Linked DNA regions of Homo sapiens: regions 2 and 3 are each linked to region 1. Evidence: fine-mapped expression QTL. A gene starts in region 1. Each other region holds a variant in brackets. All regions are shown on one strand. Distances are between the middles of the regions. Region 1 holds the start of MED21 (mediator complex subunit 21). Region 2 overlaps TM7SF3 (transmembrane 7 superfamily member 3). Region 3 has its middle 17 kb from the start of C12orf71.

Region 1 (10,455 bases):
GTAAGGAATCTATCAAAACATCAATGTCTTTTGCTGTTCGTGCAATCAGTGCTGCAAAAAGCTGGGCATACTCTAGAGAAAGATACTGCTAGATTAGGATATTAGAAAACCTCAAGTTTTCAGAAACAAATTTTAAGTTAATGAAACCAGAAACTTCATATAGCTTTTTCTGCCCTAAGATTCTAATGATTCGGCCAGGCGTGGTGGCTCACGCCTGTAATCCCAGCACTTTGGGAGGCCAAGGCAGGCGGATCACGAGGTCAGGAGTTTGAGACCAGCCTGACCAACATGGTGAAACCCCATCTCTACTAAAAATACAAAAATTAGCCAGACGTGGTGGCATGAGCCTGTAATCCCAGCTACTCAGGAGGCTGAGGCAGGAGAATTCCTTGAACCCGGGAGGCGAAAGTTGCAGTGAGCCAAGATTGCATCACTGCACTCCAGCCTAGGTGACAGAGCGAGACTCCGTCTCAAAAAAAAAAAGAAGATTCTAATGATTAAAATATACACCAATCCTGTTACACATTTAGCTCAAATTGGGAATTAAGCATAATGTATGTAATTTCATTTATTATGACAATATAGTGGTCACCTGAATAAAGAAATTTATAAATGGGATGCCTTCCTTGTTAAGGTCCCTCACTCAGCTAAATTAATACAAATTCTCCTCTAAAGGAGTAACAATCTATTATCTGACATGAACCAGAATTATGAGATGTTAGGTGAATTGACTGTAAATTTTTTACAACAAACAAAACTTGTAATATTCTCAAACAACAATAATTTTAGAAATAAAATAAGCTGAATTTCTCAAGAAATCTAATTTTAAAGGATTACAAAAAATGTGAGAGTCAAACTAAGAGAAGCTAAGAAAACCTGTTTACCTTCTGTAGGGTTAGCTGGCTGGTCTTTGTTAATTGCTGTCTGAATATTATTGAAAGAGGCAGGAGGACCACATTGCTGCAATACTCCAATGGCATTACAAAACTGATCTGCAAGCTTAGGCCAAAGAAAACATATCAAGGTTAGAAAGGACTTATCAGTTTTAAGGACTTTATTGGTAATGGCAACAACAATAAGTTTCTGTAATGATAATCTCTGAGCAAGGGAATAAAACAGAAAGGAGTGATTGTTGATAAAATAAGCCAGTTATTATTAATGTTGATTAAACGTTTTAATTCTGCAAAGAAACTAAGTTTGGTATCAATCTAGGTAAAGTTAAATTTGATATAAATCTAGTTGAAACAGTTGAAATACAAAATAATCTTTCTTTTCTTGTGATAGTAAAATGATAAGAGAATATTGGCCAATACTTATTGTAAGCCACAAGTAAAGACTTTTTGGGGATAGTGATGGAAAAGAGCAAATTTGACTTGTAAATATCTATGGCACCATGTTTAATAAAAATTTATTTCTCATGCACAAAGTATATGATTCCTTTTCTGAGACTGGAGTAGTTACAAGTGTAAAGAAATAGTGAGGAAGAGGCTGCTCAGAAAAGCACCTTAAGTAAGCAGAAATGTATTTGTTCAAGACTCAATTTGTAAACTCTTGTACTCTAAAAGTATTCCTTAAGTACTTTTAAAGATTGGGAATAGCAATTCCTTACCATCTCCAAATTAAATACACCTATCTTCCCTACCAATTTCTCTCACCTAGTCTTGACCTCTCAAACCTCCTATTTCTAATAAGTATTTCCACTGGGTTTCTCTGCCATTGTTTCAATGACAGAACTCAAAGGCAACTGTTTCCTCTTTTTAATATTTAATTTGTATTGAAAGTCTCCTAGTCAACCAATCTAACTTCAGATTCTTACTTTCCTTTGATCTTCATATTCTGCTAATACTACAAATCTTTCTCTTTTCCTTCTATCACTGTTGCTTAGTTCAACCAATTATCTCACACCAGAATTATTACAATAGTCTTCTTGTTGTTTTCCAGTTCACCAGGTTATTTATTTTAACCTGATCAAAACATTTAAGCTTACTCCACCACTGTCTTCAAGATAAATCTCCAACTCAGGCTGTTTTGAAGCTTTCAATAATCTAAGTCAACTCTACTGACTCGTTTTCCACTACTCCTTCATATTTATCTAACTAGTCATAAAGTCACTTATGACTAAATGGCTTTGCCCAGGTTTTGCTAATTGTAATGGAGCAATAAGTGCTCAGATGCTATACAAACCTAGATCCTGATCCTAGCTCTATTAATCCAAGCAGCATTTTTCATTTTTAAATTGGATACATTCTCCTATTATAGCATTGTTGTAATAGAGGAAACACACACAAAAAAATATTCAACACAGTGTCTATCTTTTCCATCCTTCAAAAGCTTTTAAGATCCATTTAGTCAACAAAAATTTATGGAAAATAACTAAAGTACTGCATATAAACACTACAGAGACATAGTGAATGCGACATAGCTTCTGCACTCACGGTTTTCAGAGGGTAGAACAAATGTTAAAAGTTATACAAATAATTCTGATTAGGATAAATGCTAAGAAGATTCCCCCTATTTTGGTTCACATCACTCCATATTCCAATTTACATCAGAACCTGAAGCTGAAAATACTCAATTCATTATAACTCCCTAACCACATACTGTTTTTCCATCACTTAAATGTCTCCTGAGTATTTGACATTTTTTAACCTCCTTTAGGAGTATCTCTTTGTAAACATGATGGTGCTTACACACAGTAGGCACTCATACTAGTTATCCTAAAGGCTTTTCTCCAAAATCCAATTATCATTATGCCTAACCTGGAGTTAAGGCCATATTCACTCTGTCCTTATTATCCTTCTAGTTACAAGACATGTATGAATATGCAAAATTTTCCCTAAAATAAGATTTCTATCCAGCAGCATCATTACAATTTGATTTCGTAAAACCTCAAAGGAGTAGTTCCCTGAGGAAGGCTGGCTGGCAGCCCAGGCAAGTCCCTGCAGGGTAGAATTTATCTTGGTGAATTCAACACTTAGAGGCTGGTCCTCTCAGCTTAAAAACTAGTGTTATTCACCCAGGGTAGATCAGTTTTATCACAAGTAGATTCACACTCTTCAAGTGTACAAATTCTGATGTATTAAGAAAAATGCCAAGTTATTAGCTTACAGTGAGGAAAAAAAAAACTGGCAAGGAAACCAGGTACTTAGGTTTTCCTATCAGCATGTTTTCTCTCTAGCCCCTTATCTAGGACATTAAATCACAATCAGACAATGAGAAACATAACTATCAATGGAAAACTATTTAGCAGAAAACAATCTAACTCGTAATGGTAATAAGTACACCCATTGCCGCATGGGAATACCCACTGACGTCTTGGTCAACGGGATGCACATATTATGTCAGTCCCCTATGGTTATAATAAAGCTGAAAAATTCTTATTGCCTAGTGACATCGTAGCAGTACTAACGCTGTAGCGCAATGCGTTCCTTAGTGCTTGTGGTGATGCTGCTGTAAATCAACCTACCACACTGCCAGTGTATGAAAGCATAGCACATACAATTATGTGCAGTCCATGACACTTGATAATGATACTAAATGACTTTGTTACTGGTTTATGTATTACTGTTTTATCGTTATTTTACATTGTACTTCTACTTATTAAAACAAAAAAAAAAGTTATCGCCAAAACCATGCATTTCTCAGAACATGACCCCTTCATTAGGGGCCCATGACTGCGCATCCTCTGGCTTTGCTTCTACTTTCCACTCAGGCATAGTGTGGAGGAAAAATAACCAGAAGGAACAAAGCTGGGGAGCTACTTACTAGACTTGGCCTTTAATAGAGAGTAGAATTTGGGGGAGACATTAAAAAGGACTTGTAGGCCGGGCACGGTGGCTCACACCTGTAATCCCAGCACTATGGGAGGCCGAGGCGGGAGGATCGCTTGAGGCCGGGAGTTTGAGACCAGCCTGGACAACATGGTGAAACCCCGTCTCTACTAAAAATACAAACATTAGCCGGGCGTGGTGGAGGGCGCCTGTAATCCCAGCTACTTTGGCTCAGACAGGAGAATCGCTTGAACCCGGGAGGCGGAGGATGCAGTGAGCAGAGATCGCGCCACTGCACTCCAGCCTGGGCGAAAGGCACTGTCTCCAAAGTAAAAAAAAAAAAAAAAAGAAAAGAAAAAAGACTCAAATAAGCGGAAAGACATACGAGGATTAGAAGATTTCCTATCATAAAGATGTCCCCAAACTGATGTATTCTGAGGGATGGCCAAGAGGCAAGAGATGGAAGGATACTCTGGGCCCAAAGGAACGAGCTAAGATGAAAGAAAATCTCTCACCTCACCTCAGCATCGCTCCCGCACCAACCTGAAAGCGCTGGTGAAGGAATACTCTCGGCTGACATTTCATTACAAAAACCCAGTCATCCAGAGCATGAGATCTCCCTTGGTGGATTAAAATTGATGAGGAAAGAAAAAAGCTCCTGCTTCTCCTCCCAACCCCCAAAAGAAAGAGAACCCGTAAGCACCACTGACAAGAAAATAAAACTGTCCTCAGGGAACACGACAGGACCGCGCAGCCCACAAGTCCTGGCGGCCTCACCCGGACAAGAACGATCTTCCCGGTCTCCTCAAGCGAAAGAGTCTGCTCCCTCCCGCACCTTCAAGCACCGCCCGGCAGCCGGCCTCAAACCTCCGAGTTCGCGGTGGCGCCTCCCGAGAGAGCGCTTTATGCCGAAGCCCTGTCTCTCAGTCCGCTCCCCACTTTCAAGTTTTGCCTCTTGGGCCCCTTTCCTCCCTTGCTTTACCTCAAGAAAGAGAAAGACAGAGGCTAATCGAATGAAATTCCTCACCGAATTCACAGCGTCCTGAAGCTGCGTGAGCCGATCCGCCATGTTCCTACCGCAGCAAACAGACGCCAAAACAGCTGCTCTTCCGCGACTGGGCAGCTCTGGCACGCGTCATGGCCAATCACAGGGCTGCGTCCTTGGAACGGGTGGGGTCGGAGAGAACTCCCCGCCCCGTCAGGAGTGGGTGGTACTCCCGAGGCGGCCTTTCTAGAGCGGGCTACACCTGAGGAGAGGCTGGATCTTTTGAGTAACTGGGGGAATGGTCTGGGGTCCAATCGCTTTGAAATACAGTCCAAGAGCCGAAATACTCCCCTTGGGGTTGTTAGGTGTTAAAGGCTTCAGAGATTGTTGGATTCTGCGGGGATTTTTTTTTTTTAAGTAATTTCTCGTACCCTCTCGTGTTTATTTATTGACCAAATTGAAGAGTAAATATATTTATTTTTATTTATTTATTTATTTATTTATTTATTTATTTGAGACGGAGTCTCGTTCTGTCGCCCAGGCTGGAGTGCAGTGGTGCGATCTCGGCTCACTGCCAGCTCCGCCTCCCGGGTTCACGCCATTCTCCTGCCTCAGCCTCCGGAGTAGCTGGGACTACAGGCGTCCGCACCACGCCCGGCATTTTTTTTTTTTTTTTGTACTTTTAGTAGAGACGGGGTTTCACCATGTTAGCCAGGATGGTCTCGATCTCCCGACCTCGTGCTCCGCCCGCCTCGGCCTCTCAAAGTGCTGGGATTACAGGCGTGAGCCACCGTGCTCGGCCAAGAAAAATTAGCTGCACAATTTAGATTTAGAGTTGGGACTTATTGAGAGTTTAAGTGTGAAAAGTGATAATCGAAACTTGGTATTTAAGGAAATTTAGCCTGAGGATAGTCTGGTAAGAAATGAGTTTGGAATCGGCAAATAACAGGTTTGTAGACTTCAAAAAACTCTCATATCCTCTTTCTCAGGCTGATTATCCGTGATTACCTTCCTGTGGCTGCGGGGAAGGTGGAAGACACAGTCCCTGGGGAACTCAGCTTGTTGGATTTATCCCAACACTTACTGTGAAGCACCACTTCTGCTTCACACCAATGCCCCACCCTCAGCCCCAAACAGTCTACAGACTTACTGGAGCCTCATTAAGAACGTGGATGAGGCATGTTCCCCATAATGGGACTAATGAGAAATCACTCTGTAATTTGTTTTCACTGTAACTTGGGGGGATTCTACAACCTTCTCCTCCCACCCTCACTTGAGAGTGTACCTTACGGAATGGCTGCCACATGCCAGGAAGTATATCCAGTGCTCAATTTGCAAAGATGAATAAGCCAAGGACTCACTAAGGAAGGTTTTGCAGTTGTCCAAGATTAAGATGAGCTGGGCCTAGAATAGGGTGTTGACCCTGATAAGCGGGGAAAGAAAGACTAAAATATATTTTTGAGAAAAAAAATTAATATGGATTGGTGACTGATTGGATATAGTTTAGTCCACTCCATAAGAATACTAAGTTTTGCAGCCTGATTGAAGGGAACTTGGGCAGTTGAAGTAGAGAAGCCACTTCAAGACATTCATATTGTGACACAGTTTTTGTCCTGCCATTATCTTCCTAATAGGTCTTCTGTGCCTCCACAGAGACCTCAGGTTGATGTCCAACTATCTCTGCCTGGTTTTCAAGATTTACTATAATCTGGCTCCAGCAAACAGACCCAGCCTCACCTCCTGATAATTTTCTGAGTGAAATAATCTGTTTCAGCCAAGGTCCCTGACCCCTTGGTTTTCCTGGTTCTTCAGCCTCTTTCGGCCACGGATCTTTTTAAGAATCAGATAAAAGCTGTGGACCCTTTCCCCAGACCAGACTCTCAACTTAGCCTACATTTGAAAAGGGGTTTAGGAAGCTCTTGAAGCTGTAGACTTCAAGAATAACCCACCTGCCAAATATAGTCTGTGCATCTAGCTCAGGATTTCTCAATGGCTGCACTCTTGACTTTTCAGGCTAGATTATTCTTTGCTGTGGGATGCTGACCTGTGCACTGTAGGATGTTTAGAGCATCCCTGTCCCTTACCCCTGAGATGCCGGTAGCATCCCCCCAATCCATTTATGCCAACATAAAGTATCTCCAGATAGTCCCAAATGTTGCTGGGGGGCAAAATTGCCCCCAATTGAGAACCACTGGTCTAGCTCTTTCCTCATTCTTTACCTTTCCCAAAGCAATTTCTTTCCTGCTATTTAATCCTTACCCTACCTTTTTAAGCTGTACACTTCTCATATAAATTTTATGAATTGCTAGAGTCCATAGGGACCTCTCCTTTCTTCCTTTCATGATTTGGACACTTTCTCATATGCTTTTCCATTTGCTTCTGTTGCATCGCCAACTGGATTATATGGTTTTAGGAGCAGGAACCCAGTATTACAGATCTCATATTTTAAACACACAATTTTGGTGAGTACTTTCTTTGAAACTTTATATTATTAAAAGTTTCAAAGATATAGAAAAGTAGACAGTATAGTGAACCCTCGCATACCCTTTACAGCTTCAGCAGTGAGCCACTCAGTCAATCTTGTAAATGCTTTGGTTTTTATGACTGTAGCAACTATTTTTTAAGAAAAACACCTTTAGCAATTTTTAAATAACTTTAATACTCACAGTTGCAATTTATTAAATATCTAAACTGTTCTTAGTGCCGGGATGAATAACTATAAATAAGCATTTTTCTATACCACACTCTTTGAAATTCCCTAAACATGTTCTGCTGTTTTACAAAAATGCACACCATATAAAAACACCTATAATTATTTCTTCCTTGTATGAAATGCCTACACTTCCATCCACATCTCCACTTTGCTCCCTTGGTGATTGTCCACACAGTACTCAAACCTTATTTTATTATTTATTTATTTATTTGAGACAGAATCTCACTCTGTTACCCAGGCTGGAATGCAGTGGCACGATCTCAGCTCACTGCAACCTCTGCCCCCAGGGTTCTAGTGATTCTCCTACCTCAGCCTCCAGAGTAGCTGGGATTACAGGTGCCCGCCACCACACCTGGGTAAGTTTTTTGTATTTGTGTAGAGACGGGGTTTTGCTATGTTGGCCAGGCTGGTCTTGAACTCCTGACCTCAGGTGATCCACCCGCCTTGGCCTCCCAAAGTGCTAGAATTACAGGCGTCAGCCACTGTGCCCGGCCTATTATTATTTTTTTTACTTGCCACTATACTAGTGAACAAAATCTTATTTTAAACATCTCTTTATAAAAGCCTTTCCTGAATTCTGAAAGTTAAATGCTCCCAATCTTTAACACAATTGTTCCTTACACTTCTGTTATTGCACTTAGCATACTGTGCTGTAATTATTTGTACATCACGCTAATTCACCCACCAGTCCATGGGCTACTTGCAGGCAGAAAACATATTCTGTTTCCATATTTCCAGTACCTAGCACCTAACTTTTAGCCTGGCACATATTTATCAACCAAATGAATGAGTTTCCTAGCATAATAATTTCCATATAATAGCTACTAAACAAGCATTTACTGAATTTAACTTAATGAACAAAGAATGTAAATTACTACCCACAAAAGAGCATAAGAATTAAAAAATACAGGATGAAGGTGAGATTAGAGTGGGAAAGAATGAATGGGCAAATTTCACAGAGGTTCAATCCTGCCTTTTCCCTGGATCCCCACTCCCAGCTCCATTTAAGGTATTTTAGGTTTTATTTAAAAAGCTAGGGTAAGTTTTTTCCCTTCCTCCTTCTCTCCCTCCTGCCCTTCCTTCCTCTTCTAAATTTTAACAGACTTTTGTTTTATTAGATACAGGGTCTTGCTCTGTCACCCAGGCTGGAGTACAGTGGCATAATCATGGCTCGCTGCAAACTCAAACTCCTAGGCTCGAACAATTCTCCAGCCTCAGCCACCTGTGTATCTAGGACTACAGATGTGCCCCACCATGCCCAGCTAATTTTTTTTTCTGGTTGTGTGTGTGTGTGTGTGTATGTGTGTGTGTAAGAATGGGGATCTCACTATGTTGCCTGGGCTGATCTTGAACTCCTGGTCTCCAGAGATCCTCCTGCCTTGGTCTGCTAAAGTACTGGGATTACAGGTATGAGCCACTGCGCCTGGCCTAAACAGACTTTAAGCCTCTAATGATGCATATCTTGGATTTGGGAATCTTTCAGTTTCTGCATTTCCTTTCAATACATAGGAAAAATGAACTAATCTGCAAAGCTGCTAAGCTTGTTTGCTTCTCAGCTCTCCAATGGAACTCTGACATGAGCATGGAACCCCAGCCAATCATCCTCCCAAGCTGTCACAATACTGTACTTAGAAGCCAAGGTAATGAGGCCCTGTTCTGATTGCTGACACATTTGTCATCAACTGTCATGCATGCACAGGCAACTGCAGGCCTGGGGAACTGCGATGCAAAGGTATGGAGGAGAGAGAATAGGCTCAGTTCAGGAAATTGAAATTAATTCAATGTGGCCAGCATGTAGAGGTCTGATTTTAGTTGCAGCAAGAACCTAGGGAGGTGAGCAGGAGTTGCATCACAAAAAGCATTTATGTGTCATACTCAGGAAGGTGGACTTATATCTTGAATGCTTTTATAAGAAAACCTTTAAAATTATATGTATCTTTTACAAAATCATAATTTCTTATTTAAAAATGATACACTTCAATGTAGAACTTTTACACAGAAATGTGCAAAGGAAATCATTCTTAATTTAACCACCTAAAGATAACTATTTTAAACATTTTGGCATATATTTTTCAACCTTTTTTTCTATGTACATAACCAGGAATGCATACTACAAAGAAAACAAGGCAGGCACAGTGGTGTGAGCCTGTAGTAGTCCCAGTTAGTCTGGAGGCTGAGGTGGCAGGATTGCTTGAGTCTGGTGACAGACCAGGAGCACCGTCATCTCGGACAAACACCGCCACTTTAAGTTCCAGCTCCCTTTCTAGCCTCATGCATTTCAAGGAAATCACTTCTCTTCTAACTATAAGCAGCCAGAAAGAGCAGACAGTAAAACACAGATAAGACAGCTCAGGCACAAAGGGAGGTGGGGGGAAATTCTCTTGGGTAACTGCCAAACTTCACCCTCATACAATGGGCCCCAGTAAAACAGTGGGCCTTAGTAAGTACATTCCTTTCCCTTCAGGTGCACTAAGATAGGGAAGCTAAAAGCAGACTCGGGGGTATGCCTGCAGCTGCAAAAAGATGTATGGGAACAGACACACAACTCTCCCTCCCAGATAAGCACAACAGACACAGAAGCAGTCCAAGCCTCTGATAAACTCTCCCACCCTAAATCCTTAAAAACTCTTATTAGTCCGTAAGAGAGTGTGCCTCTAACCTAACTGGCCAGAAGCCCCTTTCAGGTTTGTTTTCTCTAAAATAAACTTGTCCTTGACTTCTAAGCCACCTTTCCTGTTTCTTTCTTCTTTAATTCTTACATCTGGGAGTTTAAGGCCAGCCTGGGTAACATAGTGAGATCTTGTCTCTTAAAAAAAAATTACAGGCCGGGTGTGGTGGCTCACGCCTGTAATCCCAGCACTTCAGGAGGCCGAGGTGGGCAGATCACAAGGTCAGGATTTCCAAACCAGCCTGGCCAACGTGGTGAAACCCCATCTCTACTAAAAAAAAATACAAAAATTAGCCGGGCATGGTGGTGTGTGCCTGTA
Region 2 (10,455 bases), 24 kb after region 1:
TTTTATGTTTATGATCTTATGTCTTAAATTTTAAAAAATCAAGATAGGATGTTTTCAAGTTAGTGACTGAGAGTATCTCAGGCCTTTCTTGAGTGTGGCAGTCTCTGACCTAAAAAGGGGTAATGGAGAGCTGAGCTGGGGAGAAGGGCACCCTGTGACAAATGTCACCACTATGCAGGCAAGTTTTCTTCGTGAATTCCCACCTTTTCATTTTCTTACTTTAGTGGGGCCTTAATAACTTTTACCTGAGAATATATGTTTAATGGGTTTTCATTGTTGTTTAGCTATAGTATTGAACTTTACCAAGAACCCTATAATATCAACTTTATTCTTTGGACTCTGTCACGCAAACAACAAAAAAATTATAGTGCTCAGTTCATCCAGCCCTGTGCTATGCCTCCAGCAGTATTAAGGACTCTATTATAGATGTCATCACTAAACCCCTTAACCTCAACCTCAGCCTTAGAAAGTTTTTAAAATTCTCTGGGTTAGTTTAAGCTATGAAGAGTCTGCCATTTATATAATCTTTTACAATCTATCTGCATTTAGTCTCTATGATGCCCTAGACCAATACATGCATTTCACCTTGTATGAAGTTATACTTCTTTTTATTTGTCCTAAGCCTATATTATAATATTCTGGAATTTGGTAAACAATTCTGTCTTAATCTAATTCATATGTAAATTTTTAAAATTTTTATTTTTTTTTTTAGAGATAAGATCTCACTCCATCACCCACGCCGGAATGTGGTCGTGTGATCATGGCTCAAATTCCTGGTCTTAAGTGATCCTGGAACTACAGGCACATGTCACCACACTTGGCTAATTTTTAACATTTTTTTTTTGTAGAGATGGGGTTTTGCTCTGTTGCCCAGGCTGGTCTTGAACTCCTGGCCTCAAGTGATCCGCCTGTCTGGGCATCCCAAAGTGCTGGGATTGCAGGCATGAGCCACTGCGCCCCAGCCCATATATAATATTAGAGGCATTGGTCACACTATCTTTCTTACTATTTTGTGTATTTTTATTCCTGCCTTCTTTCCCCTACCATAGAGGTTTGGAAATTGTGTGCATGTGGTTGTGCACGTGTGTGCGTGTGTGTTGTGGGGTATGTGTGTAGGGGGGTAGTTAATAGACTAGAAATGGAAGAATTCAGCTTAGGAAAAAAGGAAAGGAATAAATAGTATTAATTACAAGAGATACCGATGTCACACATACGTCGAATTTGCCCAAGTTCTTTGCAGCTAAAGCAGAAGGTAAAGCATGTTAAATTTCATAACTTCCTTAGAAAGGAAGGAGCATGCCAGTTCCTCAGGGGAGGCCAAGTTTTTTATGGCACTGAATTCAAAAGACAGCTTCCTATTCAGACTCTTACATAGGAGACTTAGTAAAATGGCACATAGATGAGTTCTTTCTTCTTCTCTTTTTTAACTAGATCTATTAAAACAATTTTTAATTGACAAACAGTGTGTTTCTTCCTAATGACATTACAGCAAGACAACATTTGAAGGAAAAGAGAGAGGATGGGTGAAATAAGGGTTTATATTTGTTGAACGCCTGCTATGTCCTAGGCCAGTGGTTCTTAAGCTCCTGGAGCCATAGACTGCTCAAGTCTATGGACTCAAATATAAATATAAAATTTCATGGGGCCCTTCAAAAACTCAGACTCTCAGGCCCCCAGTTAGGAACCCCTGTGTTTGGTTTCCATATGGTTAATTCTCATTAAAGCTCAACAAATTAGTAGTGATGCCTATTTCTACATCTGAGGAAGCAGAACTTGGATAAAGAGATGTCAGCATCACCAGTGATAAAACAGACCTAGCTGGCAGCATCTTGGGCCTTGATTTCTATGCAGAAAGGGTCTTAGTTGTCCTTAATTATCATTTTATTTCTTGGACTGCCTTTAGTTCCCACTGTTATATTACTTAGAAGATGATGGCCAGAACTGCACATGGCTCAGGAAGTGAGTGGTCTGTGTAAAGAGAAGTGCTTCTGTTTCCTGTGCCCTTCCTAATAAAGTGTGGCACTTTTGTTTTTTTTGAGTCGTGATGGCAATTGGCTCTTTGAAACTGTTGACTTGATCATTTATCAATTAATATTTGAGTCATTCTTTCTTATGCTTATCAAATTGAAACTACTCTGCTACCTTTTCCTTCCCATTTCCTTAGCTTTGATAGAACCTCTTGAGTCTGTTACCTTTTAGCTTAGCATTTTATTATTCAAAAAACTTTCCAAGCAGATGGGAGTGGGGGATGGTAGAGAGGAAGTGTGTGAGGAAGGATTAGGAAGGGGCACAAGGAAACTTGGGGTGATGCATACATTTGCTATTTTGATTGTGGTAATGGTTTCACAGGTGTCTGTATATCAACACTTAAAAGTATACTTTATGGGCCGGGCACGGTGGCTCACGCCTGTAATCCCAGCACTTTGGGAGGCTGATGCTGGCGGATCACGAGGTCAGGAGATCAAGACCATCCTGGCTAACATGGTGAAACCTCGTCTCTACTAAAAGTACAAAAAATTAGCCAGGTGTGGTGGCAGGCGCCTGTAGTCCCAGCTACTTGGGAGGCTGAGACAGGAGAATGGCGTGAACCCGGGAGGCGGAGCTTGTAGTAAGCTGAGATCGCGCCACTGCACTCTAGCCTGGGTGACAGAGCGAGACTCCATCTCAAAAAAAAAGAAAAATTATACTTTATGTACAGTTTATAGTTTGTCAGTTATAACACAATTTAAAAGGTACCTCGAAAACTGAACTCCTTGGGGCCAGGTCTCATGTTTTTGTCCTAGTGGTCTTAGAAACTAAGATAAAACATTATTTGACATAGTAAATCTTAATTCAAATTAATTGAAACACTTGGGAATTTCACTGTGCATCTGCTATTCCTGATCAAAGATTATTTTTACAGACAGAATGTTTGTGTCTTCACAAAATTCACAGTTGAAATACTCATCCTCAGTGTGTTATATTAGGAAGTGGAGTCTTTGGGAAGTGATTAGGTCATGGGCCCCCATTTAGAGCCCTCATGAATGGGATTAGTGGCCTTATAAAAGGGACCCCAGATATGTTTCTTGCCCTTTCTCTGTCATGTGAGGATACAACAAGAAGTTGGGAGTCTTCAGCCTATAAGACAGCTTTCATCAGAACCCGACTGTGTTGGCACCGCTATCATGAACCACCAGACTCTAGAATTGCGAAAATAAATTTCTGTTGTTTATAACCACCTTACCTGTGGTACTTTGTTATAGCAGCCTTAACTAAGACAATCGTATATTTTTCAAGAATGCTTTTTCCATGTATATGTGTGGGCATGTGAACATAGAGATGAAAAGAATTCCCTGGTTATTTAAGGAAGGTTTTTTTTTTCTATTTGTTTTGGGAAGATTTGGAATAGGACATGCACACTGGATCAGCTCAGTAATTTATGTTTTGGTCGACTTCCTATTCATGACAATGTTTCTTCTGGACTGCAGACTCTCCTTTCCAATTCCTCGGAAACAGGCACTGCCAGTGGACTGGTTTTCATCCTTAGACCAGAGCAGAGTACATGCACTTGGTACTTGGGGACTTCAGGCATACAGCCTGTCCAGAATATGGCTATCCTACTCTCCTACTCAGAAAGAGGTAACCCTTCTGTCTTCTCCTCCCTCTTACTCTTTGGAATATGGAATGTGTTCATGAAACTTTAAGGAAAATTATCCTATTGAGATTGTTTGTTGCAAGTATAATTTATATAATCGGATTTTTTTTTTTTGAGATGGAGTCTCGCACTGTCACCCAGGCTGGAGTGTAGTGGCGCGATCTCGGCTCACTGCAACCTCTGCCTCCCGGGTTCAAGCGATTCTCCTGCCTCAGCCTCCCAAGTAGCTGGGATTACAGGCGCCCGCCACCAGGCCCAGCTAATTTTTTGTATTTTTAGTAGAGATGGCGTTTCACCATGTTGGCCAGGCTGGTCTCGAACTCCTGACCTTGTGATTCGCCCGCCTCAGCCTCCCAAAGTGCTGGGATTGCAGGCATGAGCCACTGCGCCCAGCCTATAATCAGAAATATTTTATAGTAAGAGAATTAGCACGATGACTGAAAGCTCAGGTAGTGACTAGGAGAACATGTTTATTCATTCGAAAAACATTTAGGGAGCCCTTGGAGAAGCAGTAATAGTTAAGGCAAGACATAGTCCTTAACAGTTTAGTTGTTCTAAGCAGAAGCAGTAAGCTCGACGTCATGAAGAAAAATGATTTGGAGAATGGCACGTTGTGAGTGTGGCTGCAGCTGGAGTGTGGAGGGCCTTGCATACAATTTGAGGTTTGTACTTTATTTCGAGGTAGGTTCTAAGGAGGCATAGAGTTTTTAAGCAGAGGAATGGTGTAGTCCATTTCATCTCTTAGAAAGCTAACTCTAGAAG[T/C]AGTGTGGGGATGGATTGGAGAGGGCGCAGCAGAGTCAGGACTCAGCACAAAATGAGAAATGAGGATCTGAACAGAGGCCATGAGAGGCGGGATGGAGAAGAGGAGCAGGATTTGAGATATCCAGAAGGTGGAATTGATACAACACAATGACTGGTGGTTATGGAGTATAAGAGGGAAGCATAGGTTTCCTATTTGGGCAGCAGGGAAATAGTGATACAAAATAGGTGTAGGAACAGGGTTATGGTGGTGCTGGATGTTTTGGGAGGTGGGACGGAGTAGGTGATGACTTCAGTTTGGGACACAGTCTGAGATGCTTGTAGGACATTTGGATGGAAATGCAGAGTACATAATTTAAATAAGGGCCTGGAGTGGAGGGGTGAGATTAGATTCCCAACTAAATAGCTGTTAATAAAAGCTGTGGCAGTGAGTGAGATTATCCAGGCATGTACTTGGATATTTAGGGCAAAAAAATCATAGCAAATACTTTACTAGTGCCTACTATGTGTCAGGCACTGTTTCTGGTGGATAATAACTCCTGAGGAATAAGCACAACACTGTGGAGTAGTCAAGAAGGTAGGAAGAAAGCCTGGAGTTTCTGCCTTTAAAAGGGAGCAGGCCGGGCACGGTGGCTCACACCTGTAATCCCAGCACTTTGGGAGGCCGAAGCAGGTTGCAGGTATAATTTATATAATCGGGAGTTTGAGACTAGCCTGGCCAACATGGCGAAACTCTATCTCTACTAAAAATACAAAAATTAGTCAGGTGTGGTGGCAGGTGCCTACAATCCCAGGTACTCAGGAGGCTGCGGCAGGAGAATTGCTTGAACCCGGTGGGCAGAGGTTGCAGTGAGCTGAGATTGCGCCACTTCACTCCAGCTTGGGTGATAGAGCAAGACTCCGTCTCAAAAAAAAAAAAAAAAAAAAGGAAGTGGTAAGTTACAGTCTACGGAGAGGTCAAGAGAACTGACTGAAAGTGTCCGTATGCTAGAGCAAGTAGGAGTCAGCGGTGGCCCTTTATGAGAGTCACTTTAGTGGCACAACAGGGATGGAGGAGTGAAGGTGAGGTGAATAAATTTAGACTACTCTTAAAGCTTGGGGGTAAAGGGAAGGAGAGGGAGCGCTAGTTAGGAAAGGAGGGAGAATCCAGAAGATTACTGGAGTAGAAGATAGGAAATGTTAGCTATAACAAAAGGCTAATTACCTGATAAGAAACCATAGACTTAATTAAGGCTTGCGTCAAGGACAGTGTACAAAGAAAAATTATGAACAGAGGAGCTTCAGCTGGCATACATACCATTTGTGGTGTGGTAAAGATCCATAAGTGCAGAAAAAGGAGAGTATGAAAGAAGAGCATAGAATTTGGAGGAAGATTCCAACATGATATTGAAACATATATACACACTGTGTATCTGCATTCCAAACCTGGCCAGAAGTAGTCAACCAATAGCCGATCTTTTTAACTCTAGAGGAAAGGTTGGCAAACTACAGACCATGAGCCAGATCCAGCTTGCTGCCTGTTTTTGTACATAAAGTTTTACTGAAACACAGCTATGCCTCTTCCTGTACGTATTGCCTGTGGCTGCTTTCCTGCCACAAGGACTGGGGTGGGTAGTTACTGCAGAGACCATCAGACTGACAAAGCCTAAAATACTATTAGGCCTTTTACAGAAAATTTTGGCTCTGCCCTGCTCTAGGGCCCTGAACCTCAGTTAACTCTACCCTCTTTAACCTCAGTTCATGAAATAGTATACGACTAGAAGCTCTACGTTTATATTTAACTTCTATTTGGGAAGTTTTTGTAAGAGTAGATAGAGTTCTGTTTTTCTGAGTATGATTTGGATATGTAGGAATTGTTTGTTTAGTAACTTCCCTATTTCTTATCCAGATCCTGTCCCTGGAGGCTGTAATTTGGAGTTCGATTTAGATATTGATCCCAACATTTACTTGGAGTATAATTTCTTTGAAACGACTATCAAGTTTGCCCCAGCAAACCTAGGCTATGCGAGGTACGTCTGTCTCCCATGTCTGAGAAATGCTTTTAGAATATACATGACGACAGTTGTGTAGATTTGACCAGCTCTCTCAAGTCCCTAATTCTCTGTAGTAAAATTGAGTTAATTTTTGGGGGGAATTGATGTAATTTAAACTTCACTATTAATATTTGGACTGTCATTTACAGTTAATATTTTCCCACTTCATTCTTGTGAACTCTTTTTATTTGAAGAGCCAGATGTGAGTCTATTATGAGCTTGAAAATACATCCTGGTTTTTATAAAGCACTTTAAATATAGATAGCACTCAGTAGCCCTGAAACATCCTTTTATTTTTATAAAGATTCATTGTTTTAATTAAAGCTGTGCCTCAGTTTCTGCTTTAATAGTAATGATAGCTAACATTTGAGAACACTTGAATGCTTCCTGTGCATTGTCCGTGGTGCTGAGTGTTGTTATGTTCTTTGCCATTTAATCCTAACAATTTTATGAAGAAGGGCAATTGCTGTTATTTTACAGAAAGTTTCCCTAGGGGTTATGGAGGTTACCCTACTTGCTAACAAATGACAAATCTGCTATATTCTTCTTCTTTTTTTTTTTTTTAAATCAAAGATGAGGTCTTTCTATGTTGCCCTGGCTGGTCTTGAACTTCTTAGCTCAAGCAATCCTCCTGCTTCAGCCTCCCAAAGTGCTGGGATTACAGGCATAAGCCACTGCACCCAGCTTTTTTTTAAAAAAAATTTTTTTGCCTCCCCAGAGCTGTAGTATTTTACTCTAGGCCTGACTGATATCAGAATCCAGTTATGTAATCACCTTTGCCTGTTGGTGTTTGTCTTAGTTTGTGGTGCTGTAACAAAGTAGCACAGACTGGGTGGCTTATAAACTTCTTTCTCATGGTTCTAGAGGGTAGAAGTCCACGATCAGGATGCCAGCACAGTTGAGTTCTGGTGAAGGTTCTCGTCCAGGTTACAGACTGCTGGGTTGTCATTGTGTCCACACATGACAGAAAGAAGGCTAGAGGGCTCTCTGGGATCTCCTTTATGAGGGCAGTAATTCGATTCATTAGGGCTTCACCTTCATGACCTAATTACCTTCCAAAGGTCCCACCTCCTAATATCATCACACTGGGAGTGAGGGTCTCAGCATATTAATTTTGGGGAGACACAAACATTCAGTCCATAACAGTGCATTACTTTTCTTCAGAATACCAATTGTTGCCACTGCAAAAGGTGAACTGTTAAATTGTAATTATTGTTGCAAGTGTTTGAAATTAGGGCTCTTGGTTCCTTTTTATAGATGGGACTTGCACCACAAGAGACTGATGTTTCATTTTGTTGGTTGACTTTAGAGGCGTAGATCCCCCACCATGTGACGCTGGGACAGACCAGGACTCCAGGTGGAGGTTGCAGTATGATGTCTATCAGTATTTTCTGCCTGAGAATGACCTCACTGAGGAGATGTTGCTGAAGCATCTGCAGAGGATGGTCAGTGTGCCCCAGGTGAAGGCCAGTGCTCTCAAGGTAAATCTGAGTCCCATGATTTGTGTGGCTGGATTGTGACACCTTTGTCAGAGTTGAGAAGGGGAGAAGCTACCAGGATCTTATTTCTTTACTCTTTTCTCCTTTTTGGGGGACACTCACTTTATTCTCTTTTGTTATCATCTTGGGAGTCTTTGCTGGTGATATCTCAAAATGATGTTGGCCTTTGAGGAGATGCATGTAAATTATGTTACGTTTTAGTTGCAGCCACATCTGTGACTTGGTAATCTGAAATGTGAATGGAAGGAGGTGGTAATTTTCTGTGTACTCCCACGACTACTGGGTAAACATTTTTGGCAAGTATGAAGATTACATTGTTTTGAGAAAAAAATAATGAGAAACTGCTTAAGGATATACACATTGGCATTCATATTTGAACCCAAACTCAAAGTCTAACTTGGAGTAAAATTCTTCTCTGAGCTTTTGAATCCATGTAAACCCTTGCTCCCCAGGTGTGGACCATGGACCAGTGGCATTGGCATCACTGGGGAGTTTGTGAGAATTGTAATTCTTAAACTCCACCCTGGAACTACTGAATCAGAATTTGCATTTTATATCCCTCAGGTGATTCTGACTGGGTGCAGTGGCTCACGCCTGTAATCCCAGCACTTTGGGAGGCCGAGGCGGGTGGATCACCTGAGGTCAGGAGTTTGAGACCAGCCTGTCCAACATGGTGAAACCGTGTCTCTACTAAAAATACAAAAATTAGCCAGGCATGTTGGTAGATGCCTGTAATACCAGCTACTTGGGAGGCTGAGGCAGGAGAATTGTTTGAACCCAGGAGGTGGAGGTTGCAATGAGCCCAGATGGTGCTGTTGCACTCCAGCCCTCAGGTGATTTTTATGCATATTAAATTTTGAGACTCACTGCAATAGATCATTTTTGTGGAGGGCAGGATTTTATCTTTATGTCTTGAAAAGTGCCTAACAGCAATATAATATATGAGGTCATCCTTCAGTCTAATGGTTGATGGGTGGAGTTTTTCTAGACAGCGTCATTGTGCTTATTCACAAAATAAGAAGCTCTGTTAGTAAAGTTTATTAGTTGCTTTATTAGATATGACATTTTAATACTATTATTATTTTTATGAAGAATATAAGAACTTGTATAATAGGCTTTTTGTAGGTTACTTTTAAACTTTTAGTTAAAAGAATATTTTGTACCAGAATGTGGGGAAACCCTCAAAGACTAATGAGGGTATGTCAAAGAGATTCAGGAGCCTGTTTGAAGGGGCTTGCACTGCCAAATTTGGGGCAGTTCAAGAATCAAGAAAAAGACTGTGGTTGTCAGCCTTGAATAAATACAAATGAAACCTTCCTCAGTTGCCACCACTGGAGGAGACTCTTACAGCAAATTACTCTAAAAATTGATAAAGAAATTTAGCTTGCCTTTTTAAAGGAGGAACTAATTCTTCCCCAGTTGGTGAGAGAAAGCTCTTTGCAGAAGAGTGCTGGCTAATATATGTAGAAGAAATAATAGAATTAGATGATCACCATTTTGTGACCCTCAATGAAATAATTCCAGCAAGGATCAGCAGGTGAAAGGTTTTTGGGGAACAGGATATTTCTAGGGTGTCTAAGTAGCATCCTTAGATTAATTCTCATTGTAAAAGGAGAACCACTTTAACATGGAGTGACCTTATAGTCTCCACCTATTCCAGGTGGGCAAAGCTAGTTTCACTGAAAATGGATCAGCCTGTATTACGTGCTTATGTAGTGCAGTCTGACATTATCACCATCACCTGTGGTATATTCTAGCAAAAAATGTCTAACCTGAATTTAGTCCATTGGATTCCCTATTTACAGGAAATATGGGGGATAAAAGAATAAGTTAGACACAAAATTGTGGAATACTTTATGAGAATACTGACTTCACATCTTCTACAGTCATTGGGTAGCTGGGAGAGAAAGGTGGGACAGACTGCTCTGGATTACTGAGATTGGCCGTAAACACCATGCATGGAACTTGGTTTGATCTTGGGTAAGAAGGAGAAAAGCTAGAAAAGATGTTAGGAGCCAGGAACAGTGGCACACACCTGTAATCCCAGCACTTTGGGAGGCTAAGGAGGGCAGATCACTTGAGCTCAGGAGTTTGAGACCAGCCTGGGCAACGTGGCAAAACCTCACAGCCACTAAAAAAACCAAAAAGTTCCAGGCGTGGTGGTGCGTGCCTGTAGTCCCAGATATTGAGGAGGCTGAGGTGGGAGGATCGCTTGAGCCTGGGAGAAGTTGCAGTAAGCTGAGATCACGCCACTGCACTGTAGCCTGGGCGACAGAGTGAGACCCTGTCTCAAAAAAAAAAAAAAAAAAAAAAGACATTAGGGAAAATCTGGATCATTTATTAGCTAATAAGAAATTATTCATTTTCGTAGGTGAGCTAAGGTATTGTTATATAGGAGAATATTCTTATACAGATGGTCCCTGACTTATGATGGTTTGACTTATGATCTTTTGATTTTAGTTTTGATAATTTCCTGAGCTAGCAATATACAGTATGATACTCTTGCAACGCTGAGCAGTGGCAGTGAGCC
Region 3 (10,455 bases), 78 kb before region 1:
ATTTCTTTGTATTAAATAGACAACAAAAGAGTAGTTCATCAGAAGTAAAGGTTAAGCATTATCGTGTGAAAATTCTGATTTGATTATTCAGACACACACATACACACACACGTACCTGCAACAAATATTGATTGAGGGCCTCCTATGTGCCAGGTATTAGAGGCAGAACAGTGAAAAAGACCAAGAAAAGCGAAGCTCTGCCTTTAGGTGGCTGACATTCCAGTGGTTTCAGAGTATGTGTGTGTGTGTGTCTGCACAGGCATGTACACACTCATGTGTTTTACAACCTAAGAATGCATACTTTATACTGGGATAAAAACGTTTGAAAACCACTGCTCTGAAGTGGTGTTGCTTAGAATGTGGTCTGTGGACTGGAGCTGGTGCACGAACTGTTGCTGGTCTACTATAAGTACAGAAATTGAGAATAACCACTTTAACAACTGCATAGCAACTTGACCTTGCTGTGATATCCAATTATGTGATAGTTCTGCTGGCAACTCAATTTTCTTTTTAAATTGAATTTTAGAAAACAGATTAATTCATGATGGAAAACAAAATGAGGCACATTGGCCAGGTGTCTTGGGAGTAGGTTACATCACACTCTGATTGGAAACCGCAGCCATGGACCACAGCTGTAAAAAGGTGCAACACAGGGAGCAAGAAAACCCCAACAAATGGGGAGTATGGTCCAGGTTTGTTCTTTCCACACATATAAAATGATGAAGACAATTAAACGGCAAGTGGAAAACTGTTAGCACCGACAATAAGGATGGGCTGCTAAGTTCAGAAGAGGTGACACAAAAACCATTTCTGGTTGCATAAAATTTACATCAGTTGCAGTCACATAGTTGGACTGCTTATTTGCCTAATTATGATGCATCATCTGACCTGCTTTAATTACACCAATAAAAGCTATATAATTTGTGTTAAAGTTTCAGTTTGTCACATGGTCAAAACTCACTGTATTAAAAAGCTGGAAGAAACTTGCTAGCATATAAAATTGATTGGGAAGACTGGTAAAAACTGTGGGCTAGGAAACAGTTTTGTGGAGGAATAAGTTTTCATAAATAATCTTATAAACTCAACAGTTTGTCTTGTAGGTAATTTCTGTTGGTTTCTATTCCAACTGGGTGTCAGTTACACTCTTGGCCATACAGTAAGAGGAATGCCAACACTGCTTGTTCCTTTATAGCACACGTGCTCCTGGCCAGAATCACCAGTTTTCGGCTGTTGGAGAAGAGAAATGAAAACCAGAGCCCTGAAACTGTACAGCTGGAAAGTTCAAAATATATTCTTAACATTGTTATTTCCTAATAAAATATTAAGAGACATATGGAAAATTTGTATACTGAGCCAAATACTAAGGGGTAATGTAATGCTTTTCAAATTATTCATATTTCAGTTCTGAGTGAATAGCACTAATTGCTGGCTGAAGGGAGGAGTAATGAGGGGGAAAGTAAGGCCAAAAATTATTCCCCAACCCAGGAGTTGGCAAACTATGACCTATGGTCAAATCTAGCCCACTGCCTGTTTTTATAAAGTTTCTTTGGAACACAGTCACATTCATTCGTTTACATATCATCTATGGTGGCTTTCATGCCACAACAGCAAAGTTGAGTAGTTGTAACTCACGAAGCCTAAAATATTTACTATCTGGCTCTTTGCAGAAAATGTTTCCAGCCCCTTCCCTAACCTACCTTATCCTACAGCCTCCTGAAAGTGCACAGACTCTTCTCTCATTCACCCACTGATTACACAATATTTATTGAGTACCTATTGTATATCAGGCACTATTCTAAGTGGTGAAGCTGGCAACTCAATTTTCTTTTTAAATTGAATTTAAAAAGTAATGAAGAAAAAGCAAAGAAAGAAAATAGAAAAGGAAAAAAAGTAAAAAGTTGTTGCTCTGATGGCACATACATTCTAATGGCAAGAAACCACAAAAAATAGTTTAAATACATAGCAGATGAGAGGGTGATTGATAAGTGCTATGGGAAAAATAATGAAGCAAGCAAGAGGAATAACATTAACATTAGCTTACTATGTACCGGGCACTGTTTTTTAGTGCTTTTCATATATCAATTCAATTAATCTTTACAATAACCCTAATGACACGATACTTATCCCCACTTTATTAGTGATCAAACTGAGGCACCAAGTCACACAGCTAGAAAAATGATGTGAAGTCAGACAGTCTGGCAGCAGAGCATGTCCGCTTAATTATATACTGTGCCAGCTCTTCGTGCAGAAAGGGAATGGCAGGGACTTAGAAGTTTTGATCTGATAATCAGGGAGGGCCCCATTGGTAAAGTGACATTGATTAAAACCTTGAAGAAGGTGAGGGGAGAAAGTCACAGGAATATCTGGGAAGAGATTCCAGGGAGAAACAACAGTAAGTGCAAAGGCCCCGAGGAGGGGGAGCTTCATGTAGTTGATGTTTGAGGTCAGTGGGCTGGAAGGTGGTGAGCCGGGGGGTTAGTAGGGAATGTGGTCCCAGAGGCACAGAAGGTGTGGTGGGAGTGGTGCGGTAGTGGGATCTGGGGCCTCACAAGCCATGGCAGCCAGGCTTTGACTTCAATTGAGCATGGAGATGGAAGGCCACTGGAGGGTTCTGAGCCAAGGAATGACATGATCTGATTTCTGTTTTATGAAGAATCATTCCTGGCCGGGTGCAGTGGCTCACGCCTGTAATCCCAGCACTTTGGGAGGCCGAGGCAAGCGGATCACGAGGTCGGGAGATGGAAACCATCCTGGCTAACACAGTGAAATCCCATCTCTACTAAAAATACAAAAAAAATTAGCCGGCGTGGTGGCAGGCGCCTGTAGTCCCAGCTACTCGGGAGGCTGAGGCAGGAGAATGGTGTGAACCCGGGAGGCAGAGCTTGCAGTGGGCCGAGATCGCGCCACTGCACTCCAGCCTGGGCGACAGAGCGAGACTCCATCTCAAAAAAAAGAAAAAAAAAAAAGAAGAAGAATCATTTCTAAGAACACACTGCAGGTGTGGCAAAGATAAAAACAAGAACAGTCAAAAAATGACTACAACAATTCAGATGAGAGGTTCTGTTGGTGGCTCGGGTCAGGGTGTGAGCAGTAGAGATGGTGATTGGACACTAGCTATGTACGTATGTGTGAATACACATATAGTAAATATGTATATATACATACATAAAATGCATATTGCTATATATATATTCTGAATATAAAATGTATATTACCATACATATTAGGATGCATTACACATATGAATTAAGTTATAATTTAGAGAGTAAAATGCACAGCTCTTTGCTGCACAGTTTGATGCATTCTGACAAATGAACATACCCCTAACAAGATAGCAACGTTTCTATTGCCTTGTGTATATTTTTGTTATAAACGCTAACAGAACTTGATAGAGCATTTGGGAGAAAAGATGAACTCAAGACTATGGCCTAAGCCATAGGAGGATGGAGTGGCCATTTACTGAGGCAAGTAACTGCCCACTCTCAACTTCTGAGTATGACAGCATTTCCTTCATCCACCAAAGGAAGGAAACAGGAGGAACTATAAAAGTATCATCTAGGTGAGTCATTACCCTGCCATCCTTTACACTGAAATTTGATGAAATACAGCCAGCCCTCCATATCCATAGGTGCCCCATCAGTGGATTCAAACAACCATGAATAGAAAATATTTGAAAAAAAATTGCGTCTGTGACTAAACAGGTACAGACTTTTTCTTGTCATTATTCCCTAAACAATACGACAAAGATTTACATAGCATTTATATTGTATTAGGTGTTATAAGTAATCTAGTGAGGATATAAAGTATACAGGAGGAGATTCCAAGGTTTTAGGCAAATGCAATGCCATTTTATATCAGGGAATTGAGCATCTCTGGATTTTGGTATCTGTGGGAGGTCCTGGAACCAACCCCCCATGAATACCCAGTGACAACTGTGCCTGGATCTTATATATAAAAACTGAATGTCATGGCAGAATACTCAAGGAAGATTACCACATCATCAAGTACTCCTATAGCACTTGTTGTCTCTCCCCACACCCATTCTCTCTCAGCCTCTGTTACCAAGTACCATATGGAACCACGGGTTATCTCTAATAGATGTTATATTTGGCTAAGGAAAAAGTATGTCTCTGGCAAGCAGTCTTGCCTAACCAGGTCCTTGGAGTGTTGCCTGTACTAAATCAAGCTTTTTAAGGACTAAGGACCCATTCTTAAAATTTCTATACCAGATCTATGGCAATGAAAAGGGTGAAACTCAGTAAAATATCTTGAAAAGATTTATTCTGAGCCAAATATGAGTGACAAATAGCCCATGACACAGCCCTCAGGAGATCCTGAGAACATGTGCCCAAGGTGGTCAGGCTACAACTTGCTTTTATAAATTTTAGGGAAACATAAGGCATCAATCAATACATATAAGATCTACATTGGTTCAGTCCAGAAAGGGAGCACAACTAGGGTGGTTAGTTCCAGATCATAGGTAGATTCAGTGAATTTCTGATTGGTAATGGGTTAAAAAAGTTGTTATTATCTAAAGACTTAGAATCAATAAAAAGGAATGTCTGGGTTAAGATGAGAGGTTGTGGAGACCAAGGTTTTATCATGCAGATGAAGCCTCCAGGTAGGAAGCTTCAGAGAATAGACTGTCAATGTTTCTTATCAGACTTTAAAAGATTATTCTATCAGTAATTCCAAAAAGGAGGAGGGAATAATGAGTAATGTTGGGCTCCCCCTTCCCATCATGGCCTAAACTAGTTTTTCGGGTTAACTTTGGAATGCCCTTGGCCGAGAGGAGGGGTCCATTCAGGTGGTTGGAATTTTATTTTTGGTTTACACTTACCATGGTGATCATGAAATAAATAATAACTATTTGTATCCATCAAAACAAAACTATTCCTTTATCACCACCAAACATGCTTTGCAGTACTGCAGAGGAAAGAATAGAATATTAATGGACTTGTTAGACTCTGACTCTTTCATGTCTTAGAGTATCAACTTAGATTTTGTTTTCATTTCAATAAAAGTTCTGACAACCCATAACTTTAAGAAGAGAGGGAATGAGGGAGGCAGAGAAGCAGAAGAGAGGAAATGTGTTGAACTGTCTTGACAGGAACTTGAAAACTTGCTTTTACCACAGCTACATGTTGAGTGACATGGGCAGGGCTACCAAAAGACCAATATAGTCAGGATTTTCCACATTTTACTGTCTCATGACTAGTGCTCCAAAGTGACATGAATAAATTCATACATTTACTCATATACATAATTATATATATATATGTATAGTCAGCCCTCCATATCCACAGATTTCATATCCATGAATTTAACCAACCACAAATTTAAAATATTCAAAGAAAAACAAATACAAATTTTAAAATACAGTATAGCAACTATTTACATAGCATGTGCATTGTGGTAGGTATTCTAAGTAATCTAGAGATGACTTAATGTATATAGTAGGATGTATGTAGGTTATATGCCAATACTACATCATTTTATATAAGGAACTTGAGCCTCTATTGATTTTGGGATCCTCAGGAGAGCCTAGAAAAAATCTTCCATGGATACCAAGGGACAACTGTACTTTATTCACAGAGTATTTCTCATTTACCTACCAAAGAGTATTTCTCATTTGCCTACTCTTTATTCAAAGAGTATTTCTCATTTACCTACCTACCTACCTACTTTACTCAAGGAGTATATCTCATTTACCTACCATTTACCCACTTACCATGTACCAGAAACTGATCTAGGAACTGAGGAGCTTCCGTTTGATTGACCATCTCCAATTCTGTATTTGCTTCCAATTAAGTCCATCTCATGGACCTGGTGAAGGGATCCCACCTGCCAGAGACATACCTTTTCCCTAGCTAAGTACAGCATCTGCCTTATTTTTAAGTGGCACCTCGAAACTTGAGTATTCTAAGTGATCAGGGTATACATTCTACTTAATGGGGTGTTTATTTGAGCCTAAAAACAAGGCTGGGGAACAATATACTTTTCAAAGTTTTGCTATTTATGCCATCTGTATTGGATGTCTTTGAATTATCTTCATCTCAGGATGCTTCAATTCCTGCCCTCTATTAAAGAGTAATAGAGTATTAAAATTTATTTTTCCTTATGAAAAATAAGGAAGGCCCAAATGTGTAAGCAAAAAGTTAAAGAATTCTTGGGCTAGAAGGTTTTTTATTCTTTCCTTTTTAAAGTCTCATTCTGTCACACAGGCTGGATGGAGTGC[G/A]GTGGCCTAATCATGGCTCACTGTAGCCTCAACCTCCCGGGCTTAAGTGATCTTCCTGCCTCAGCTTCCCAAGTAGCTGGAATCACAGGTATGTACCACTACACTCGGCTAATATTTTTATTTTGGGTAGAGACAAGGTCTCCCTATGTTGCCCAGGCTGCTCTTGAACTTGTGGGCTCAAGTGATCCTCCCATCTCAGCCTCCCAAAGTGCTGCGATTACAGGCATGAGCCACCATGCATGGCCAAGGATGTCTTAATATAGTGATGAGAGGGGAAACTAACAGCTGCTAGGGACAAATATCTACTAAAACCATTTTACCAGGAGATAGGAAGAGAGATTAGTCCTAGAGTAGCCACCCTGACTATTCTGGACCTGGGGTGTGGAGTCCAAGGAGTAGTGCTTTATGGATGTGTGTGGGGAAGGCAAGGTCATTGTCTTCCCAAAGGAAGGAACTGGGAGCTATTTGATTGTGATCTACCCCAAGAAAGAGGAGGTAAAACTAAACACAAGAATAGTCCCTAGTGCTGGAGAGCTAGCTCACAGGACTGACGTCAAGGGCCAAAGAAATATTGCTGGGCCTGACACTTCAGCTCTGTGAATGAAATTTTTAAAACATCCTTACATCTAAGCTCTGATAGCATATCTACCCTGGAGAGAGTACTTTTGTCAATTCAGATATTGGAATTTATGTGTAATACCCAGGGTTTCTTATCTTCAGAGAAGTCAAATGCCAGAACCATCAGGTCACCAGATGGAAGATGGAAGGTCTGGGCTCCTCTCTTGGCTACCCAGCTCCTTGGGAGTTTCTGTTTTCCTCTAGGATTTTCTCCAACAGAAAGCCAGGCATGGCAATCAGGGAGAGTCTAACTGCAGTTTATGAAGAGGTTTTGGTCTTTGGCACTGAAATTATTCAGACCTAAAAGAGCCTCTCAAGCCACCTAATTTCTTCTAGAGATATGGGGTACCAAGCATTCCTCTGCTCAGATACAATCAATAGCTCATGCTATTCCACCCTGCTACAGGCTTAGAGAGGTATGGATGATGATGATGATGATGATGATGATGATTATGTGTATTATCTAACCCACCCTAAATTCTGTTTTCTGAAGGGATAAGCCGTTTTATTAACAGGTTACTGATATTTTGGAATATACTTGAGGAGAGACAAAATTTGACTCATTTAATAAAAAGGGAGACAATCTTCCATTCCACCTGATCTCTTAGGATAGGGGGAACAAAATATGGGTTGTATTTCAGGGCCCAGAAGCTAAGAGGGTACATACCAGTCACATTAGCACGTGACATGCTTCGGGAACAGGGAGTAGGGTGAGTTTTGAAGTACAGGTGGAGCTGGGCGCCATGGCTTACACCTGTAATCCCAGCACTTTTGGAGGCAGAGGCAGGAGGATCGCTTAAGCCCAGGAGTTCAAGACCAGCCAGGCAACATAGTGAGACCTTATCTCTATTAAAACAAACAAAAATTAGCTGGGTGTGGTGACACACATCTGTAGTCCCAGCTACTCAGGAGGCTGAGGTTGGAGGATCACTTGAGTCTGGGAGGTCGAGGCTGCAGTGAGCTGTGATTGCACCATTGCACTTCAGCCTGGGTGACAGAGTGAGACCCCGTCTCAAAACAAACAAACAAACAAACAAACAGACAAACAAAAAGCAATAAAGTACAGATGGAGCATACAAGTATGCCTGATGTCAGTGGGCTGCAGAGAGAGAGGCTTGGCAGATGCCTTGACCTCCCAGAAACTGGGAAAGGCCCAGAGTAGAAAAGGAAGATAGTATAAAAGGTGCTTCAAGAACCTGCACCTCTGATGGCATCCCTGGACAACATCAGAATGACCTGCTAGAAAAGCCAGCTGCAATTTCTTGGTATAAACATTCAATCCAAAGCACTGGAGAGCTGTGAATGTCAAAACTGCACAACTAAACGAGGCTAATGTGGAAAATGAGGGATATGCAAGAATGGCGTAACTAAAGCAAGATGTCAAGTGAAAACACACTACAGATCAACTAACTACTTTTAAAATCCTCAGAACTGGAATGTTAGACATGTTACAGGTCATGGACTTGAGGGGGAAAGAAGTGGTCCCCTTGTTCAAGGAGCTGCTGTCATATTTGCTTTCATTTACCTAATACTTTTTGGCCTAATGACTCATGAAACATGAGAGAGAGAGAGAGAGCAAGATAGAGTCAGAGAGTCAGAGAGCGAGAGAGAGCAAGCACAATGTTGACTGCAGAACTAATACCATGAGGTCTATTGGGTCTGGAAAAAAGGAATAAAATTCAACTACTTTATGGAAATAGGTTCAGTTTATATACAATTCCAAAATAAGCATAGCTAAAAAAACACAAAATAAATACAGCTTGATTTCTGAGGCTAATTTGTGTTGAGGTTCAACTATGGATGGTGTGATGGGTTTAATTGTGTCCTTCCAAAATTTATATGTTGAAATCCTAAGCCCCAGAACCTCAGAATGTGACCTTATTTGGATATAGGGTTTTTATACAAGCACTATATAGGCAACAATCTGCTGTCCACAATATATTCTTTTCAGTGACAACATTCAGCCAACTGCCTTTCATGCCCCAGTAATGAAATTCAATTAGATACAGCATATTTGGCAATTCCAGTATCATAACAAACATTTACAGACTGATTACTTGCTCCCAGATTCAAATTCTGTTCCTACTGAGAGATATGGCAATCACCTCCAGAGAGTGTCCATTAGAGTTTGAAATTACAAAGCAATTGTGCATGTGTGGTTGTTTTTCATACTTTCCTATATTCCCCGCCTCACCATTAGTAAAATTGAGGTACTTCCATAAACATAAAAAACAGAAAACTAACTGAACTCATATTCAACACAGAGTTAAAAACAAGAAACAAAACTGTCTCTAAGTCAATGACAAAAGTATAAGCAAAATCATAGCAATATTTATTCAGTGTTTGTTCAGGGAGAGGTTCATGCTAGGATCCTGGTAGAGACACACAGATATATGATATATACATCAAAGCAATCTAATGATTGATGAATAGTTTTATACGGCCTTTAAAAGTGATCAGTTTTAATTTGTATAGGATCATTCATACTCAGCAAGAATTAAGTCTCCTCCCATGTTTTCTGCTGCCAGCACTCAAATACTTCAAGCCATTTCCACAAGAGCAAACATGTCAGATGAAAAAACATTGTGCCTCTCCAACGAGGCCTTCCTCCACACAGTAAAACATCATGGTCTGGGCACTTTAAGTGCTCAGTGCCAAACTTAGATGCCAGCAGCTAGAGACACTCTAGGTTGTAAATCACACCTGGTCTTCAACTCTGAAAAATAGCTACAGAACTAGCATCATAGACAGAACCATGCTGGCTTGGAAAGGTAAATATACAATGTCATCCTAGCCAAATTTGCTTCCAAACTTGTTTTAATTTGGAAGCAAACTGACTGAGATCTCCAGAGGAGGTCACCATTCTGGCTGTGCAGGTCATGTCCTTCACAGAGTGTCTCACCCTGGGTGCACAGACGCTGAAATCCAATCCATGCAGCTTGGGGGCTGCATTCACCTGGAGGGGCACCATTTTCTAATTCGCCCAGGCTCTCCAAGGACAAGTAGTGGTTCTTTCCCAAGACCTTGTTTTCAAAAAGCAATAGACTGGGGCCATTTGTCAGTTTTAATCTTAATTAAAATGTCATCTGCAAGTGTCACATTCACCCTCTTCTCTATGGATACCCCTGGGATATTCATCTAGGATTATCTCCGTGAAGAGCAGTGGCTTTAAACACCTTCAGTTCAGGAAGTGAAACAGTCAGTGGGACCGGAGTGTAGAGAACAAAAGGGGAAATGGCTGCAAATGAGCCTGAAAATGTGGGTGAGGCCATGTCATGCAGGGCCCATGGGACCATTTTGAGAATTTAAAGATTATCTTAAAAACAGTCAGATGCCATTGACAGGTCTTAAGTACCTAAATATGATTTGTGTTTCTAAAAAAAAAAGTCTCTCTGCCTCCTATACAATAATAACCAGAAGGGATCCCGAGAAGATGTGGGAAGAGCCAGTTGGGAGTTGGTAGACTGGACCAGGTGGAGGTAGTGAAGGCAACAGAAGTAGACAGATGTAACATATGTTAGGATATGGGACCGACGGGACTTTCTGAGTGACTGTATGCAGGAATGAAAGTGTGTGAGAGAAGGAATGACGTCCAGGAT

What was found. PIP is the estimated chance that this variant, and not a neighbour inherited with it, causes the effect.
Region 2: its variant is fine-mapped to the expression of MED21 in caudate (GTEx, PIP above 0.99).
Region 3: its variant is fine-mapped to the expression of MED21 in pancreas (GTEx, PIP above 0.99).

What each region holds. Positions count from the first base shown.
Region 1 is chr12:27,016,964-27,027,418 of GRCh38, reverse strand. It overlaps MED21 (mediator complex subunit 21), which reads right to left and starts at 4,861. Exons shown (of 4, transcript NM_004264.5): 1 at 4,798-4,861; 2 at 885-999; 3 at 1-72. The coding sequence starts at 4,839. RefSeq lists an enhancer at 4,540-4,829.
Region 2 is chr12:26,992,689-27,003,143 of GRCh38, reverse strand. It overlaps TM7SF3 (transmembrane 7 superfamily member 3), which reads left to right. Exons shown (of 12, transcript NM_016551.3): 3 at 3,468-3,618; 4 at 6,282-6,402; 5 at 7,736-7,907. Among named protein-coding and RNA genes, the nearest start is that of TM7SF3, 16 kb to the left of the region's middle. The variant T/C (reference allele first, on the strand shown) is at 4,397.
Region 3 is chr12:27,094,569-27,105,023 of GRCh38, reverse strand. It overlaps the pseudogene LOC124902904. Among named protein-coding and RNA genes, the nearest start is that of C12orf71, 17 kb to the right of the region's middle. RefSeq lists an enhancer at 840-1,009. The variant G/A (reference allele first, on the strand shown) is at 6,239.